Regions from separate parts of the Homo sapiens genome. Here all the other regions are linked to region 4. The links come from fine-mapping of genetic effects on gene expression. A gene starts in region 4. Each other region holds a variant in brackets. All regions are shown on one strand. Distances are from middle to middle.

Region 1 (4,000 bases), 55 kb after region 4:
ATAACCCTGAATTTGCGTGATGGAAACTCAGGCTGACGCCCCTTGGCAGCCGGCCAGCCAGCTCTCCCCACTTCTGCCCGGTTCTCTGCCGTCAGCATGTTGGTGACACCTGCCCGATGTTTCTGCACACTCTGCTTTTTAGATTTGGAACCCGGAGGATTCTTCTGGCCATTCAGGATGTGTTTAAGTAAAAGCATGGTGAAAATGGCAGAAGATACAGCAGCATGAGGGTAGTGGTGATAACAGGAAACAGTAATGATACATTTTTTAATTTTAATTTTTATTCTTTACCTTTCCTATGTTGCTGAGGAAATAGTAGTAACAGAAATAAGTCATTAGGGTGAGCAGTCTTCTAGTTATTTCTAACATGCAGGAATAACAACAGCAATTGCCAGCATTTTGGGAGTCCGCCCTCTGTCCCACCATGGTGCTTAGTGAGTACTGTGCCTACAGTGAATCATTTAATGCTCCCAGCATCCCTGCAAGGAGGCTCTGGTATTATCCCTATTTTACAGATGGGCAGCTGAAGCCCAGAGAGGTTAAGTAACTTGCCCAAGGTCACACAGTTAATAGGAAGAAGAGCTGGGATTCAAACCCAGGTGGGTCTAGCACTTAGTCACAGAAGTCCCATTCTCATCTCTTCCCTCTCCTCATACCTTCTCTGGTGAACCCCAGAGGTTCTTACAGAACTTAGATGGGTCCTCTCTTTGTGAAGTGGTTCTCAGGCAGACTGGGGGAGGGACACAGGGCAGGGCCTTCCCCTGTAGGCAGCTTGAATTTACTGCTTTGTGAAAATTAGGGAGGAGCGAATGGTCTTCACTTGGGGTTTTCCTGTGTGTGTGGTGTGTGCGTTCATGCGCACACACCCCCACAGTGATATTTCTGATGTCTCCATAATAACAATGCCATAAAAGCAACTATTTATTGATGATTTGCTGCAGGCCCAGCCCTGTCCAGGTGATTCCTTGAAATCATCTTGCTCCGTCCTCTTGGCAGCCCCAGGAGGATCTCCTGAGTTTCATCATGCCTATTTCACTGATAAAGAACCCGAGACTCAATGAGATTAAGCAGCTTGCCCCAAAACATATTTTTAGTTGGCAGAGAAGCTGTGATTCAAAGGCAGGCCTCCCTAAGGCCACATGCCTTACCTCTGTGCTGATGCCAACAGGGACAGCTGAGCACAAAGTCACAGTGCCTCAGACTGGCAAAGGACTTTCTATTTTACCTTGGATGGGCTTTGCCCACGTTTTTCTGACCCCAAATCCAGTGCTTTTTCCATTCCCAAGGGCAGCAAGTCACCGATCTCTTGCATGCCAATGCCATTTCATTAGTGCGCCTGTACACATGTTTGTACCTGTGTGGTTGCAGCCGGGCTCTGCAAGAAGGGATAGTTAGCTAATGCTAAGAGTCACTTAGCGCTGTGTCTGCCATGGGGCAGAAAAGGGGGACCCGTGGCCCAGATGATTCAATGTCTGTCATTCCCACATGAGAGCATGGGCCTAGCTCAACTTTTAAAATTATTTAATTGAGAATGTATGACTAAAGCTGTATCTCAGCAGAAAGTATTTTTTTGCGGGGGGGGAAACTAATAATAATAACAATAGCAGCTACTTCTGACACCTACTGTGTGCCGGGGCGGTGATGACATTCCCTGGTGGTGTTGCATGGTGTGTAAAACCTGTCTTGTCACTTTATCACCCTGAGACTCGGTTTCCTCATTTG[T/G]AAAGCTGGGGTAATAATACCTCTTGGGACATGGTGAAGATGTAGCCAGAGAATCTCTAGCAAGCACTTGATGCAGATAAAAGTATTTTTTTAATTAGCTTTAAAAATTATTCCTGATTTTCAGTATAACCTTGTAAGGTAACCGCATGAGTCTTGCTTGAGGCTCAGAAGGTGGAAGTGATTTGCCCATGGCCACTTACCAGGAAGGGGCTGGCCAAGGTTGCAGGCTTGGCTCTGTCCTCTAACACCCAGCCAGGGCAGTTTCACAGTGGGGCCTTCCTCCCAGGCTAGGGGACAGTCTTGTATTGTCCCTCTGGGATGGAATAAACTCGAGGCTAATCCTGCCTGTCCCTCTTTGGCACTCCAGCCCTGGCCCCACACTGCCCCTGCTTTCGAGGACTTGTGGCAGAGCAGCAACCTCTCCAGCACCTGGTTGCTTTGGGGCTTCAAAAATCCCCAGGCTTTTTCAGCAGAAGGTAGGATGACAATTTCCTTGTCCTTGCTGAGGTCCAGCTCAGATAACTGGGCTTTGCCTCCCCACCAGCCCCTTTTGCTGGAGTGGGTTTTTTCTAATGAGCCATGCCCTCGGGAGTGCCTATCCCTGAGGTGCAGTAGCCACCTCTCACTCCTGGGCGGGTCCACAAGTCCTAAGCCTCAGAGTTGGCTCTTGCTTCCTTCGTAGAGACTATAGAGGAGCAGTGCTTCCCAAGCTCCTGTAGATTCCAGTTTTTGATAATAATGATAATAATAGTACCACCTATATCCTAGGTACTATATTGTCAAGACAACATGAGCTAATGCATATAAAATCCCTAGCCCAGTGCCTGGCACATGATAAGCAACCAAAAAGAAATGGTAGCTGTAATTGTCTAAGCGATTGGCTTGTGGCAAGACTGATCTGCAGTTACATCTGCGATGCTCAGATAGCTGATGAATTGACATTGATGATGAACGTCTTTCCCAAGGAGCCGGAAGGTGATTTATTTCCCAAGAACCTGCCACAGGCTGAGTGATTGCTGTAGCCTCTGCTCCCCACCCGCCCCCAGCTGTGCCACCTTCTCAGTCCTTCCTTATGATACTCTCTTAGTTGGATTTTTGAAATGGCCTCTCTGAATGAGTGTTTAATCAATTGCAGAAATTCGAGATGCTTAGTCCTCTGGCCTGGTCTTTACAGCGGCCCTTGGTAGGGTGGTAATTGCGCCAAGGCAGGCTGCTGCCAAAAAGACTTAATTTCTCTGGGCACGCCCATTAGAGCAGAGCTCACTTGCAGCTTGGCCACAGGAAAAGGTGAGATCATTTGTTCGTGTGCTCAGGGTCCCTGTGAACCATTCTGTCCACCAGAGAGAGGCTACTAGCTGGGGATGTCTGTGGGCTTTCCTTCTCATCTCATTCCCAAGTGGCTGAACAAAGGTCCTGGAATAGGGTAGGGGCATGAAGAGCTGACTGGCCCCGGAAATGTCATTGGTTGCCCTTCTGGCTTTACATGTGGTCATGCCAAATTAAATGCCTGCTTGTGGGTACATATGGTTTACTGAATCTGAGGTCAGCACGGTCCCCTCTTTCATAAGGGAAATGATTACCAGTGAGCATTTCTTCAGCCTCTGCTGTGGGATAGAAACATGAAGGGCTTTGGGAGAGGTAGGTAACTATATGGGGCAGTGCTTTGGGCACTTGACCATGCATACAGATTCCCAAGGGACCTTTTCCAGTGCCAGTTATGATTCAGCAAATGTGGTTCTTGTGGCCGCATAACCACCACAGGACTTAGGGATGTATAGTAACCACAAGTTATGCTCCCAGGTACTGTGGGTGAGGAAGTGACAAGGCACAGCAGGGGTGATGTGTCTCTGCTCCATGATGTCTGCAGCCGCAGCTGGAACACTCAACATCTGGGTGCTGGAATCATCTGGAAGCCTGTTTCCTCCTGTGCCTGGAAGTTGATGTTGGCTATGGGCTGGAGGCCCTAGTGCTTCCTGCATGGACCTCTCCCTGTCATCTTTCCACAGTGCTAGTTTGGGCTGCCTCTAAGAATGGTGGCTTAGGGGGGCTTTCCAGGGGATAGGTGCTGGGAGAGAGGTGAGTGGAGGCTGTATTCTTTTGATGGCCCAGTTTCAGAAGGCACAGAGTATCCCTCAGCTGGGCTTTCTTGTTTAAAGCTGTCACAAGTCCAGGCAGTTTCAAGGGGGAGAGGGGACTAGGCCCTTCTTTCTATGTGAGTGTCCTAGGGCTGCTATACCAAATGACCACACACTGGGTGGCTTAAAACAACAGAAATGTA
Region 2 (4,332 bases), 47 kb before region 4:
ATTTTCCTGAGTTCTGTGAGTCATTCTAGCAAATTATAGTACCTGAAGCAGGCATGGGCCATGGGGATTTCTGAATTTGTAGCCAAATTGGACAAAAGTGCAGGTAGCCCAGAAACCCAGGACTTATGGCTGGCGTCCCAAGTGAGGGCTGTCTTGTGGCACTGAGCCCTTAAACCTATGGAGTCTGACACTAATTCTGGTTAGTCGATGTCAGAATAGGATCGGATTGTTGTACACCTAGTTGGTGTCATGGGAATCAGAGACAGTCCATCAAGTTTTAATTGTAACCCCCTCTAGAAGACAAATGGTCTGGGGACAGATCTTAGTAACAGATGCCAGACTGAGTATTACCATCCCCTTCAACATTAGAGGTGGTGATACTCGGCCATGGACTTCCCAGCTCTTCCCTTGAAGTGCAACAGGACCACCATGTTTGCCCACCTCCTCAGGCACCATTCACAGTGTATTTTATGTGAAGGTGTGGAGTTCATCTTTTTTAATTCCTAGGGAGTAAGAATTCAAGGTGACCTTTCTGGCACCCTCTCTACCTGATCAGCCTCCGCCATGCCATTTCGTAAGTATTTTCCCCAGCTCAAGTAGTAGATGAGAAGTTTTGCAAATCAGCTGGCTAAACAGATGTCCAACGGTGGAACAGACTACCAGTGTCCTTTCTTGCAGACACCCCAGTTTGAGCCCTATGTCTGTCTTGGCCTTAGGGAAAAGACAAAGGGGTATCCCTGGATGAACACCGTACTACCCACTGGCCAATGACCTCTAATATTTTTTGGGAAAGGTGTGGACCAATTTCATTTTTTCTCAGTAAGCCTTGTGAGAATACGCATGCTCTGAGAAGGGAATACTATCAGGTGGGTGACTTGATTGACGTGTCACCACAATGGTCCTGTTGCTTAGAAATCCATCAGTCCTTTGTGCATACCCCGTACTTCTGGGACTGTTCACCTGAATCAGTGACCAATGGTTTTGGCTAAAAGTTACAAAACCCATCCAATAGTGGCTTAAATGAAATAGACCTTATTATGTCTCCTAGAAGACTAGGAGCCAGAGGATGCAGGGCCGCTCAGAGGTGATGAGCACTGGGATCAACAGCCCAGTTTCTTCCTATCTTTTGGCTCCGCCTAAGCTGTTAGTTTTTCATGTTCACACTTGTCATCTCAAAGTCACAAGATAGCAATTAGGCATAAACTCTGCTACCAACCTTCCAAAGCAGAAAGAACAGGCATGGTCCAAAAGTCTTTTCTTTCTTCTTTTTCTTCTTTCTTTTTTTTTTTTTTTTTTAATAGAGATGGGGTTTCACCACATTGGCCAGGCTAGCCTCGAACTCCTGACTTCAAGTGATCCACCTGCCTTGGCCTCCCAAAGTGCTGGGATTAAAGGTGTGAGCCACCTGTAATCCAGCCCAAAAGCCTTTTCTTTCTGAGGCTCTGTCTTTTTTCTAGGAATTGAGGGTCGCACACTGACTTCCCTTAGGTCTCTTTGTCCAAAACTGGGGTTGGAAACACTCAAAAAGGGGAATGGGATTGCCAGGGCTGGCATAGACACATGATGACTCATTTCTGGAGTTGAGGGAAGGATCTTGCCCTTACAACAAGCCGGGGAAAGGGGTGGAGGGGCGGGTAACGGTCACCCCTCTGAGTGCCAACCTTGACCATCTATCTTGCTTGCCCATCAGTTCTTCAGTGCATCTGCACCTCCAATGTCCGTGCCCTTCTTGCAGACACCCCAGGTGGAGGCCTTTCCTCTTTTCTCTCTCCCAGCAATACTGGACTTTTCCACAGGAGTGGGTAGCACTCAATAAATGTTTCTTAAATAAATGAAGACAAAAAAATGTTTTAAAAAATGATTTTATGGAGGGTGTGGGGAGTATAGAATTTGGAAGAAACATATTTCATAGAATTATTAGACAAATAGAGCCCAGAGATCAGGAATTCATTGCCAGGAGCCCATGACTGGGTGTCAGCGGGTTCCATGAAACCCTGAGATTGCATGACACATTTTGCATGAATGTGTATATAAATTTTGGGTAGGGTGTGTCCTTGGTTTATAGCACATGTAAGATTCTGCAACCTCTAAAAGACTCAGAAAGCCCACCCCAAATGGCCAAGGGCAACACCCTCAATTACCGGTGGGCAAAGTAGTAGCCAGCATCCTCCAAGGAATGACAAGCTAGCAGGACTGAGCTTCTGACTCCCAGGACCTCTCCTCCTAAAGCCACAGACTCCATTGTTTCTATTTTTAAAAGGCCAGTCCAAAAGGTGTTATTATTCTCTGTCTCCCAGCACAGCTTGGAGCAGAGTGGCCAGACTAGGGAAGGAGTCTCTCGTGATGACTCACCACCATCCTCCCCTGAGTAATGGCCTTCAGGCTCTATCACTCACTTGTGCTGACGCACTAGACTGGAAAAAGCTGACCCTGAGTCAGTGGTTATATGGACACATAAAACCCTGGGAGGCGGGACCAAAGAGAAGGAGCTGAGCTGGAGGTAAAGCCAGTGCCCACCACCCAGACCCACACCTCCCCAACCCCAAGGGAGAAAGGTAATTTACTTAGG[C/T]AAGAGCCAGGTGAGCTACTGGATCAGTGTTAAAACTCCAAGCAGCCCCTGCATAGTGGATAGCTTGTAGGTGAAGATGGAGAATGGGAAGAAGGCCCACCTCTCCCTCAATAGGCAGCTCCTTCCCACTTTTGGGATGGAGAATAGCTGCGGTTGAGTTTGGCTTGGGAGGCTCAGTGAGTTAGTTAGGACCCCACCCCACATAATTCAGAGTGTGTGAGGCTGGGTGCAGTGGCTTACGCCTGTAATCCCAGTACTTTGGGAGGCCAAGGTGGGAGGATCGCTTGAGGCCAGGAGTTTGAGACCAGCCTGGGAAACACAGGGAGACCCCCTCCTCTGCCCCATCTCTACAAAAAAAAATTTTTTTTTTTTAATTAGCCGGACTTGGTGGCCTGTGCCCATTATCCCAGCTACTTGGGAGGCTGAAGGGGGAGGGATTGCTTGAGCCTGGAAGGCTGAGGCTGCTGTGAGCTGTGTGGTTGGACCACTGCACTCTAGCCCAGGCAACAAAGCAAGACCCTGTCTCAAAAAAAAAAAATAATAATAATAATTAATGAAATTTAAAAAATACAAAAACAAACAAACAAACAAAAAACAACCCACACATTGTTGTGTGAGAGCAGGCCCGGGACAGTTTTCCAGCTCCCAAGGTGTGCACCCTGGTCGGTAAGCCCTGGATTTGTTATGTGATCTTGGGAAACTCATTTGGCCTCCCTGGTCCTCCGTTGGTTTCCTTAATAGAAAGTTAAGGGGTTGCACTAGGTCAGTGGTTCTACATATTCCTCCCTAACAACCTCTGACTCCACAAAGGTAACCCTAGGCAAGCCATGGAGGGGAAGGGTCCCAGTGAGGGGCCTTAGAGACTAGGAGGAGAGGTGCCTTGGGGGACAAACGAGAGGGCCCCTTGGAAAAGGAAGGACACTGGCCTCTGGACATTTCATGCTGATGGGATTCTGCAGCATGGCTGCCCTTTAGAAGTGAAGAGCTTTGGCCAGGCTCACACCTGTAGTCCCAGCACTTTGGGAGGCTGAGGCAGGAGGATTGCTTGAGCCTAGGAGTTTGAGACCAGCCTGGGCAACATAGTGAGACCCCATCGATATTTTTTTAAAAAGAAATGTGGAGCTTTGTAAAATCAGAATTGCTTTCCCCAGACCTACTGATTCAGAGTCTTGCAGGGATAGAGACTGGAACTTGGACTTTCAGAAAGCTCTCCAGGACATTCTAAAGCAGCAGAGATTGTGCCTGTGAATAGCCACTGCACTCTAGCCTGGACAACATAGTGAGACCCCATCTCTGTAGAAGAGGGAGAAGGAGAAATAAAGTAGCAGGGGCTGGAGATCTAAGATCTGGGCCCACTCAAGGTCAAGGTGCTGCTGACCACCTCTTTCCCAGTTGCCCCCTGGCCACAGTGGAGATGCCCATTCCAGGAGGCAGCCCCCACCTCAAAAGAAAGGAAAAGAACAGAAAAGAAAAGAAGAACAATGGGGTCCAGACTTCAGCAGGTCCTCCAAGAGCAGCCGACCTCCTGCTTCCAGGTGTTCCAAGTGCATCAGTTCACACACATCTGTTGCCAGAGCCACAAGTCTATCGAGATCCTGAGTGGAAATATCTCCATCATTTAGCTGGTGACAGAGGCAATACCAAGAACAGTGTACTTACAATCGCTAGAGAAAAACATTGAATGGATTTTGAATAGCTGCAGAACGGCTCACACAGTGCACACAAATTCATTATCAGACTTGGCTCCACTCCTTTCAGGCGTG
Region 3 (4,000 bases), 78 kb after region 4:
CATAAGCACTGATTGAGTGCTTGCTGAGTACCAAGCCCCGAGCCAGGTGTTGGGTCTTGTCTCACGCTCTTTACAGGGAGACCAGCCAGGGCTGCCGAAGTTCTCAGGGGCCCTGGCTTCTCAACCGGGGAGCTCAGAGACATAAAAAGGGAGAAAGAGAATTGCAGATATTGCTGGGGGCATGGTGAAAGCATGTGGCATTGAGATGCTGCTGACTTTAGGTATTTGGAGAAGGACAATCCTGGGCTAGGACTCCCTTTTTACTCCCAACGAAAGTGAGGCACAAAAGCTATTGTGGGTTTTGTGGGGCCATGTGGCACGGAAGTGATAGAGTTAGCATTTGAACCCAGATCTGATTGTCTTTGAAACCATTAGCCATAGTGCTTTGCTTCCTCCTAGATTATGAGGGGTCATGGGAGGTGTTTAAGCAGGGAGAGATGTCATCAAAGCAAAAAGTTGATGAAATTAATCTGACACTGGCGGGGCGCGGTGGCTCACGCCTGTAATCCCAGCACTTTGGGAGGCCAAGCCGCGTGGATCGCCTGAGCTCAGGAGTTTGAGACCAGTCTAGGCAACATGGCAAAACCCCACCTCTACTAAAATACAAAAAGTTAGCTGGGCGTGGTGGTGTGCACCTGTAGTCCCAGCTACTCAGGAAGCTGAGGCATGAGAATTGCTTGAACCCAGGAGGTGGAGGTTGCAGTGAGCCGAGATTGCGCCACTACACTCTAGCCTGGGCAACAGAGGGAGACTCAGTCTCCAAGAAAAAAAAAAAAAGAAATTAATCTGGTACTATGTCTGGCCAGTTTAGATGTAAATGCACAGTGATGAGGATGCTAGCTCGCTCACGTGGGAGGGAGCAGGTAGGAACCGAGGTCAGGGGGCTGATGGGGGTGGAGGACGGGATTTGCTGAAGGATCTGCTCAGGGGGGTAAAGGCAGAGTTGATGATGAGATGAAGTTTTCAGATCTGGCTGCTGCAGGCAGGGTCAGGGAAAGGATGGCAGCACAGTAGCTTTGGACACGCTGGATTTGAAGCGATATCACGTGGTCCCCAAACAGCGCTCCGGGCAGCAGCCCAGCAGTAGAAAGCAGAGGGGCCTTGGTGCTGGCCTGACCTGGATGTGCAAATCAGCACTCCTTTTCACTAGCACTGTGACCACAAACTATGTGCTTAACCTTTCTGAGCCTCAGTTTCCTCTCTAGTGAAATGGAGAGCTATGATACTTACTTTATAGGATGTTGGTGATATTAAGGAGAAAACATATAAAGGGACAAAGAAGGCTGGTGTAATGTGCATCTCTGAGCTGCAGCAGAGATGGTCCTGGAGTTGGAATAGATGGAAATGCGTGTCTTTTTATTAATCTGATTTTATTTTTTAATACAGAGTCTTGCTCTGTCACCCAGCCAGGCTGGAGTGCAGTGGCACGATGTCGGCTCACTGCAATCTCTGCCTCCAGGGTTCAAGCAATCCTCCTGCCTCAGCCTCCCGAGTAGCTGGGACTACAGGCGCACCACCTCGCCGGGCTAATTTTTGTACTTTTAGTAGAGACAGCATTTTGCCATGTTGGCCAGGCTGGTCTTGAACTCCTGACCCCAAGTGATCTGCCCACCTCAGCCTCCCAAAGTGCTGGGATTACAGGCATGAGCCACGATGCCTGGCCTCATCTGATGATTTTTTTAATTCCTACTGTGTGCTGGGCCCTGGGGATACAGTGTGGAGAGGCTGATGGGGAAACTCAGTCATCACGCAAAGCTGAGCTCACCCTTGATCGTGAGCTAAATGGAACAGGAGCAGATTATCCTGCTCAGCACAACATCCCAGCACACAGTAGGCATTGCAGTAAATGGTGGTGAATGCTTGAAATGCAGCACAGACCCCACTCTGTTAGAGTCATGGAGGCAGAGGCAGCAAGCCTCCCCTGAGTGT[C/GTC]AAAGCCGGTGCAGAGGAGAGAGGTAAAGTCTGTCTTTGTAACCACTTTCTATACTGGAAACTCCCAACTGGGGTGAGGCATTCAAGAAAAGCCGGGGAACTGGGGAGCAGGGTTTTGGTTCTCAGCCTGGTAATCCCATCTTCTTTTCTCCCAAGCTCCCATTTGTCTTACCTTTTCCAAATCTTTGAAAAATGCTGGATAAACCTACAGGAGTTGATCATGTGCTCTCAGCAGGCTGGGAAACTGGGGAAAAGGAAAAACAGCCAAGAATAACCAGCATTGTGAGGCTGCCCTTCAAGGCCTCAGTGGCACATGACCCTGGGCAGCCCTTTCCCGTCCTTGGACCTCAGTTGACCCATTTGTGAAAGGAACCCCGAGTTTAAAGGTGCGGTCCCATCATACCCTGCAGCATCTTCCCTTTCAACCCCTTCTATTTCTGTCACATATTTGTTTTTATTGGAAGGCTAGTTTTATTTTTTGCCTCTGTTTTTACATTCCTTCATTAAAAGTATTTTTGTAAAAAGAGAGGATCTTGCTCAGTTGTCCAGGCTGGAGTATGGTGGTGCAATCACAGTTCACAGCAGCCTCGAACTCTTGGGCTCAAGCAATCCTCCTGCCTCGGACTCCCAAGTAGCTAAGGACTATAGGCACACACGACTGTGCCCGGCTATTATTATTTTTAGAAATGGAATCTCACTATTGCCCAGGCTGGTCTGCAACTACTGGGCTTAAGTAGTCCTCCCACCTTATTCCTCCAAAGCTCTGGGATTACAGGCATGAGCCACTGTACCTGCCAGAAATATTTTTTTAATTACAAAATAAAGCTGCCTCCTTGTAAGAATCTAAGCCATATGTACTGCTTTAACGGAAAACTAATTTTCTCATTTATTGCTGTTTCTTTTAGTAGATTAAAGTTTTGTTTACATTTTAAGGTAATATAAGAATGCATGGTTGAGGTAAAAACCTCAACAAAGTACAAGTGTAGGAGGAAAATTACGGATGTCCACCTTCATGGCTTGCCTCATCCTACCCCAGCTTCACGCCCACCTTGGCCCTGAGATGACTGTTGTTTCTAGATAAGGGGACCCTTGGAATGTCATCGTAGACCCACCCCTCAAAGCCATTGCTGAGTCATGGGGACATGCCCCCTTTTGATGACAAGAGCATGGACTCTGGGTCAGGATCAGAAGGCCAGCACTGCTATTGACTTGCTGTGTGACCCTCAGGCATCCTCACATCCTCTCTGATCCTGGATGACCTCCTTGACAGGCTGGCCCAGAGGAGAATTGGGATCTGGGCTGTGAAGTCCCTAGTGTGAATCCTGCAAACAGCCCAGGTGACTGTATTGTGTGGTGATCTTGGCAGGTTGGGGACCAGATTCTAGAAGTGAATGGGCGGAGCTTTCTCAACATCCTACACGACGAGGCTGTCAGGCTGCTTAAGTCATCTCGGCACCTCATCCTGACAGTGAAGGACGTCGGGAGGCTGCCCCATGCCCGCACCACTGTGGACGAGACCAAGTGGATCGCCAGTTCCCGGATCAGGGAGACCATGGCGAACTCGGCAGGGTCTGGCCACTCTGCTCGCTCCAATCTCCAGACCCCAGGGCCATTTCTGAAAGCCAGTGATAGCTGCCTCCCATCCCTCCACCGCCCTGGCTCTCCTCTCAGCCTGCAGTCCCCACACCAGGGCCCTCCATTGGCAGGACATGACCTGGGCACATCCCTCTCCTCTCTTGGCCTCAGTTTCCCCATGGAAAGCTGAAATACACCATCCAACTGTCTCATTCTTTATTTGTCCCCAAATTACTTAACTCATTCTATAGACCTTAGTTGCTTCATCCAAAAAGTGGGGACCATAACCCTGCCCTCATCCCAGATCTGTGCAGATGAAAGAGAGGGAGGGAGAGGGAAAGAGAGAGATGCTTTGGGGTGTATTTGGCCAGAGGCCACCAGGCTGGATCCCATGAAGAAATCTGGGTGAGAGGGTCTTAAAGTCATAAACTGAGATCCAGTTGCCAGGTGGCTGCATAGTTGCCAACAGTGTAATGTGTCACCTTTTGATCTTCAT
Region 4 (4,281 bases):
TGAAAACATCCTTTGCACAGAAATAAAATGTTGGGACTGGGGATCTTAGCTCCTGGGATGCATTTATCAAACCAATCACAGTAATTATAATTAAAACAAACTAAGTGAGAGCTGAGCATGAAACACATTAGCAGGAAACCTGAACTGCATACAATTAAGCCCTGCTTGGTGGCATTTTGAGGTATGTCATTAATACATTTTTGGGGTGGAGAAGATTGATTTTTTTTCCTTAAACATCTTGGTCTAGTTGCATGAAAGGCTTCAACAACAGTTACAAAGGAGGAATAAGGATAGACACCATTAACTGCTAAGATTAGAGCTTTAAGACAGATGGCCAAAGGTAGCCTAATTGGCTATTTTTTAAAAAATCTTCCTCAGACACACTGTTAAATATGTTTATTGGGCATTAATTTAACCTATGTCTGTTTTAGGGAAGTAAAGAATTGAAGATCTTTAGGGAAAACACAGCTTCCATTCCTAGCCTCAATGCATTAAGTCAGCAGTGTTGAAAACCTTTCCACTCTTCCCCATTGTCTAGAGGAGAAAGTCCGTTTTCCTTACAGGTTCTTCATTCAGGTGTCGCCTCTTCAGTAAAGTCCTTACCATATTCTCCTCTCCTAAACCTGGGCTCCCTCGCCATTACAACAGGTATCACACTGGTTTTTAACTCTATTTATTTGATCTTTCTCCCCTGGGTCTCCAGCACCCAGCACATGACCCAGCACAGAGCAGATGCTTCAAAAACGTTGAATGAAAAGCGACCAAATAAATAAATAAATAAATAAATAAATAAATAAATAAATAAATGAATGATCTATCCTTCTGGGTCCACCACAAACCAAATCCTCCAGGTAATCCTCCATCTTGCCCTACCCTGGATAGATGTCAGCTGGCTCTGCAATGGAAATTCTGGAAGACTTTTACGAAAAATACATAGAAGAGTAGCTTAGGAGAGGCAGCTCAGGTTGGAAGGGATGTGTGTGAGGTAGGGTGTGTGTGTGTATGTGTGTGTGTGTGTGTGTAGCACTATGAAGCTCCCCATTAGAATAAAAGCACAGGATTTTACTTAAATCTTATTTGGGGGATTGGGTGGGTGACGACCGACTCCAGGGCACACCTGGGTGTATCTTCCCATTTTGCCTAGGGATGGGAGAGCATAGAAGAGATTTTTCTCCAAGCCACTTCAAATATGTATATTTTTAATTTCTATTTTGAGATTGTAGATCCAAATGCAGTTCTAAGAAATAATACATAGACATGCCATGTACCCTTCACCCAGTTTCCCCCGATGTTGACACGATGGCAACCAGGACATTGACATTGATAAAATCCACCCACCTTACTCAGATTTCACCAGTTTTATATGCGCTCATTTGTACGTGTGTGCGCGAGCGTGGGGTGTACACTTTATATAATATTTCTGAAAGTGGCTTTTCCCTTGCAATGGAGACTGGGAAGGGGTCCAGCCTGATCCATCCCTGCCACGGAGTTGACTCCGGCAGACAGCAGTCTATGCTTGTATTCGTCTCTCGCACACAGTAGGTGGCCAACGACCGTCCACATAAACCCTGGAATTTGTCATGTCAGGGCGCGTGCAGGAGGGGAGCGCCACATTGTAAGGAAGAAAACCGAGACTGAAGTGCCCAGTATTTTGGAAGCAAAAATCAAACAAACAAAAAACTTGACGATTTCCCCCCGAATTGTGAATTAGCTAGCCGGCTAATTACTCCAAAGCGATCCTGGTGTCGGCACTCGCTGCGACCGCCGAAGAGCGCTGTTTCTGAGCCCCGCTCCCGGCTCTGCCGGCGGGGTAGGGGACGCGGGGGCTCCTCCCACCCCTACCGCCGCGTTCACCCCTTTCTTCCCTGGGGCTGGACTGTTTCACCCCGTCTCCAGGCAACGGCCAGGCGCACCGGGCGGGACGTCATTTCCTGAGGAGCCCGTGGGGAGGGGGCGGGCAGGAGGAGGGACGAGGGGGCGGGGCCCGGGCCGGGCTGGCAACGAGACGGCGTCGGAACTCGCTGGAAGACTCGGCCCGGGTGGCTCAACAGTTCGCAAAGTCCGGGCTTGCGGCCGGGCGGCGCAGAGGCGCGGAGGCTCCCCGGGCGGCTGCATCCCGGGGCTGCCCCGGACATGCCCCGCACCCCTTGTCGGACGCCCGCGCCGCTTCACCGGCTGCCACTCCCCGGAGTGCTCTGGGACTAGAGCGCCCTCCGCCCCAACTTCTGACTTTGGGGTCCCCCAGCCCTAGAGGAACGGGCGCCCGGCTGGGGGAGCCCCGGGCATGGTGTGACGGGGCAGTCAGGTCAGCTTTGCGGCGCCCCCAAACTCCAGCCACCCGTCGTCTCCGTGCCCTCCAGAATGTAGCTGCTGACCCCGCGCCCCCCGGACTCCAGCAGCAGTCTCCGCCACCTCCGGGCTCCAGCAGCCAACTCTTGTGTCTCTCAGGAACCCGCCGACGTCTCCGCGTCCCCCGGATTCCAGGTTCGCGACCCCCGCCGTCTTCGCGCCTCCGGGACTCTAGCAGCGGTCTCCGCGACCCCCTAGGATCCAGCCACTGTACCCGTGCTCCCCAAACCCAGGCTCCAGCCGTCGTCTCCGCGCTCCCGGGGATCCAGCTGTCGCGCCAGTACCCGCGAGGACAGCGGCACCGCCCACACCCCGCGCGCTCAGAGCCCGGCCGGGCCTCGGCGTGGAGATGAACGCGCCGCTGGACGGCCTGTCGGTGAGCTCGTCCTCCACCGGCTCGCTGGGCTCGGCGGCCGGGGCGGGCGGCGGCGGGGGCGCGGGGCTGCGGTTACTGTCTGCCAACGTGCGCCAGCTGCACCAAGCGCTGACCGCGCTGCTGAGCGAGGCGGAGCGGGAGCAGTTCACCCACTGCCTGAACGCTTACCACGCGCGCCGCAACGTCTTCGACCTGGTGCGCACCCTGCGCGTGCTGCTGGACAGTCCGGTCAAGCGGCGCCTGCTGCCCATGCTTCGTCTGGTCATCCCGCGCTCCGACCAGCTGCTCTTCGACCAATACACGGCCGAGGGCCTCTACCTGCCCGCCACCACCCCCTACAGGCAGCCCGCCTGGGGCGGCCCCGACAGCGCGGGGCCAGGGGAGGTGCGCCTGGTGAGTTTGCGGCGTGCCAAGGCCCACGAGGGCTTGGGCTTCAGCATCCGTGGGGGCTCGGAGCACGGCGTGGGCATCTACGTGTCTCTGGTGGAACCAGGCTCTCTAGCTGAGAAGGAAGGACTGCGGGTCGGGGACCAGATTCTGCGCGTCAACGACAAATCCCTGGCCCGGGTGACCCACGCGGAGGCCGTCAAGGTAAGGCTGTGGTTTGGAGAGAGTCTGGGGCAGAGTATGGACAGAGTGGCACAGCTTTTTCAGTAACTCCATGCTGTGTGTCCTTAGATGAATCACTTGGCCTTTCTGGGCTTTTTTTTTTTTTTTAATACTTTAAAACAGGAATGTATAGCTTACAGAGCAAATAGCTCTCAGGCACTGGGAACGTAGTTCTGCACAGACATGGCCCTTGCCTTTGTGAGGCTTAAAAGCTAGTGCAGGTGATAGTAACAAATACTTGAGCAAATGTGTGGTTACAATGTGTGAATAGGGCTGTGGATTCTTATGAGCATTAAAAGAGATAAAATCTCTGCTTGGCATAATTAGGTGGCCTTTGCTACTGCCATTCTGTGGTTTTTTGTTTTTTGTTTTTCCCTGAAACAGTTTTGTTAGCTCTTAAGTGGCCTGAGGAGGCCGTTTGTGTGATCCACAGTGCACTGGCTTGACGCTGCTGTTTTTGGACCAGGTTGTGTATCCTGAAGCAAGTCACTTGCCCTCTCAGGACCTCTTGTTCTCCACTTGGAAAATGGGGCCACTGGACCAAATAAGCGGTCCCTAACCTTTTTGGAAATGAGACTCCTGCCTGAATGTAAAAAATAAATTCCCTAGCCCCTGAGAGTGTTTGTCCTTTCTGCCATTTGTTAATTGAGAAATATAACCTCATGACAACAGGCTTCCAGGGATTTAATCATGCTTTTTAAAGGAGTGTGTGTGCTTACTGATCTACAGCCCAGGGCTACTGAAAACCAGTTGGAGTATGATGGATAGTGTTGGGTCCAGGGTGGATTCATGGATCCTTTGCAGGCATTTTTCCCCCTTCCCCCCTCCCCCGACCTCCTTTGCGTACAAGAAGTGAAGAGTTTGGGGGAAAAGGGACACATGCTCTGCTTCTGCAGAGAAATGCTTCTCAGGGGGTTGGACTGTTCTGTAAACCCCCACTCCCCGCC

The links. PIP is the estimated chance that this variant, and not a neighbour inherited with it, causes the effect.
Region 1: its variant is the best candidate, but not a certain one, in a credible set for the expression of WHRN in left ventricle (GTEx, PIP 0.87).
Region 2: its variant is the best candidate, but not a certain one, in a credible set for the expression of WHRN in atrial appendage (GTEx, PIP 0.87).
Region 3: its variant is the best candidate, but not a certain one, in a credible set for the expression of WHRN in stomach (GTEx, PIP 0.79).

What each region holds. Positions count from the first base shown.
Region 1 is chr9:114,448,409-114,452,408 of GRCh38, reverse strand. All of the region lies in intron 3 of WHRN (whirlin), which reads left to right. Among named protein-coding and RNA genes, the nearest start is that of WHRN, 55 kb to the left of the region's middle. The variant T/G (reference allele first, on the strand shown) is at 1,723.
Region 2 is chr9:114,550,173-114,554,504 of GRCh38, reverse strand. No RefSeq gene overlaps it. Among named protein-coding and RNA genes, the nearest start is that of ATP6V1G1, 35 kb to the left of the region's middle. The variant C/T (reference allele first, on the strand shown) is at 2,570.
Region 3 is chr9:114,425,709-114,429,708 of GRCh38, reverse strand. WHRN (whirlin) reads left to right here. Exons shown (of 12, transcript NM_015404.4): 4 at 3,296-3,498. Among named protein-coding and RNA genes, the nearest start is that of AKNA, 40 kb to the right of the region's middle. The variant C/GTC (reference allele first, on the strand shown) is at 1,930.
Region 4 is chr9:114,503,219-114,507,499 of GRCh38, reverse strand. WHRN (whirlin) reads left to right here and starts at 2,027. Exons shown (of 12, transcript NM_015404.4): 1 at 2,027-3,316. The coding sequence starts at 2,699. RefSeq lists a silencer at 1,933-2,232 and enhancers at 1,757-2,647, 2,648-3,538.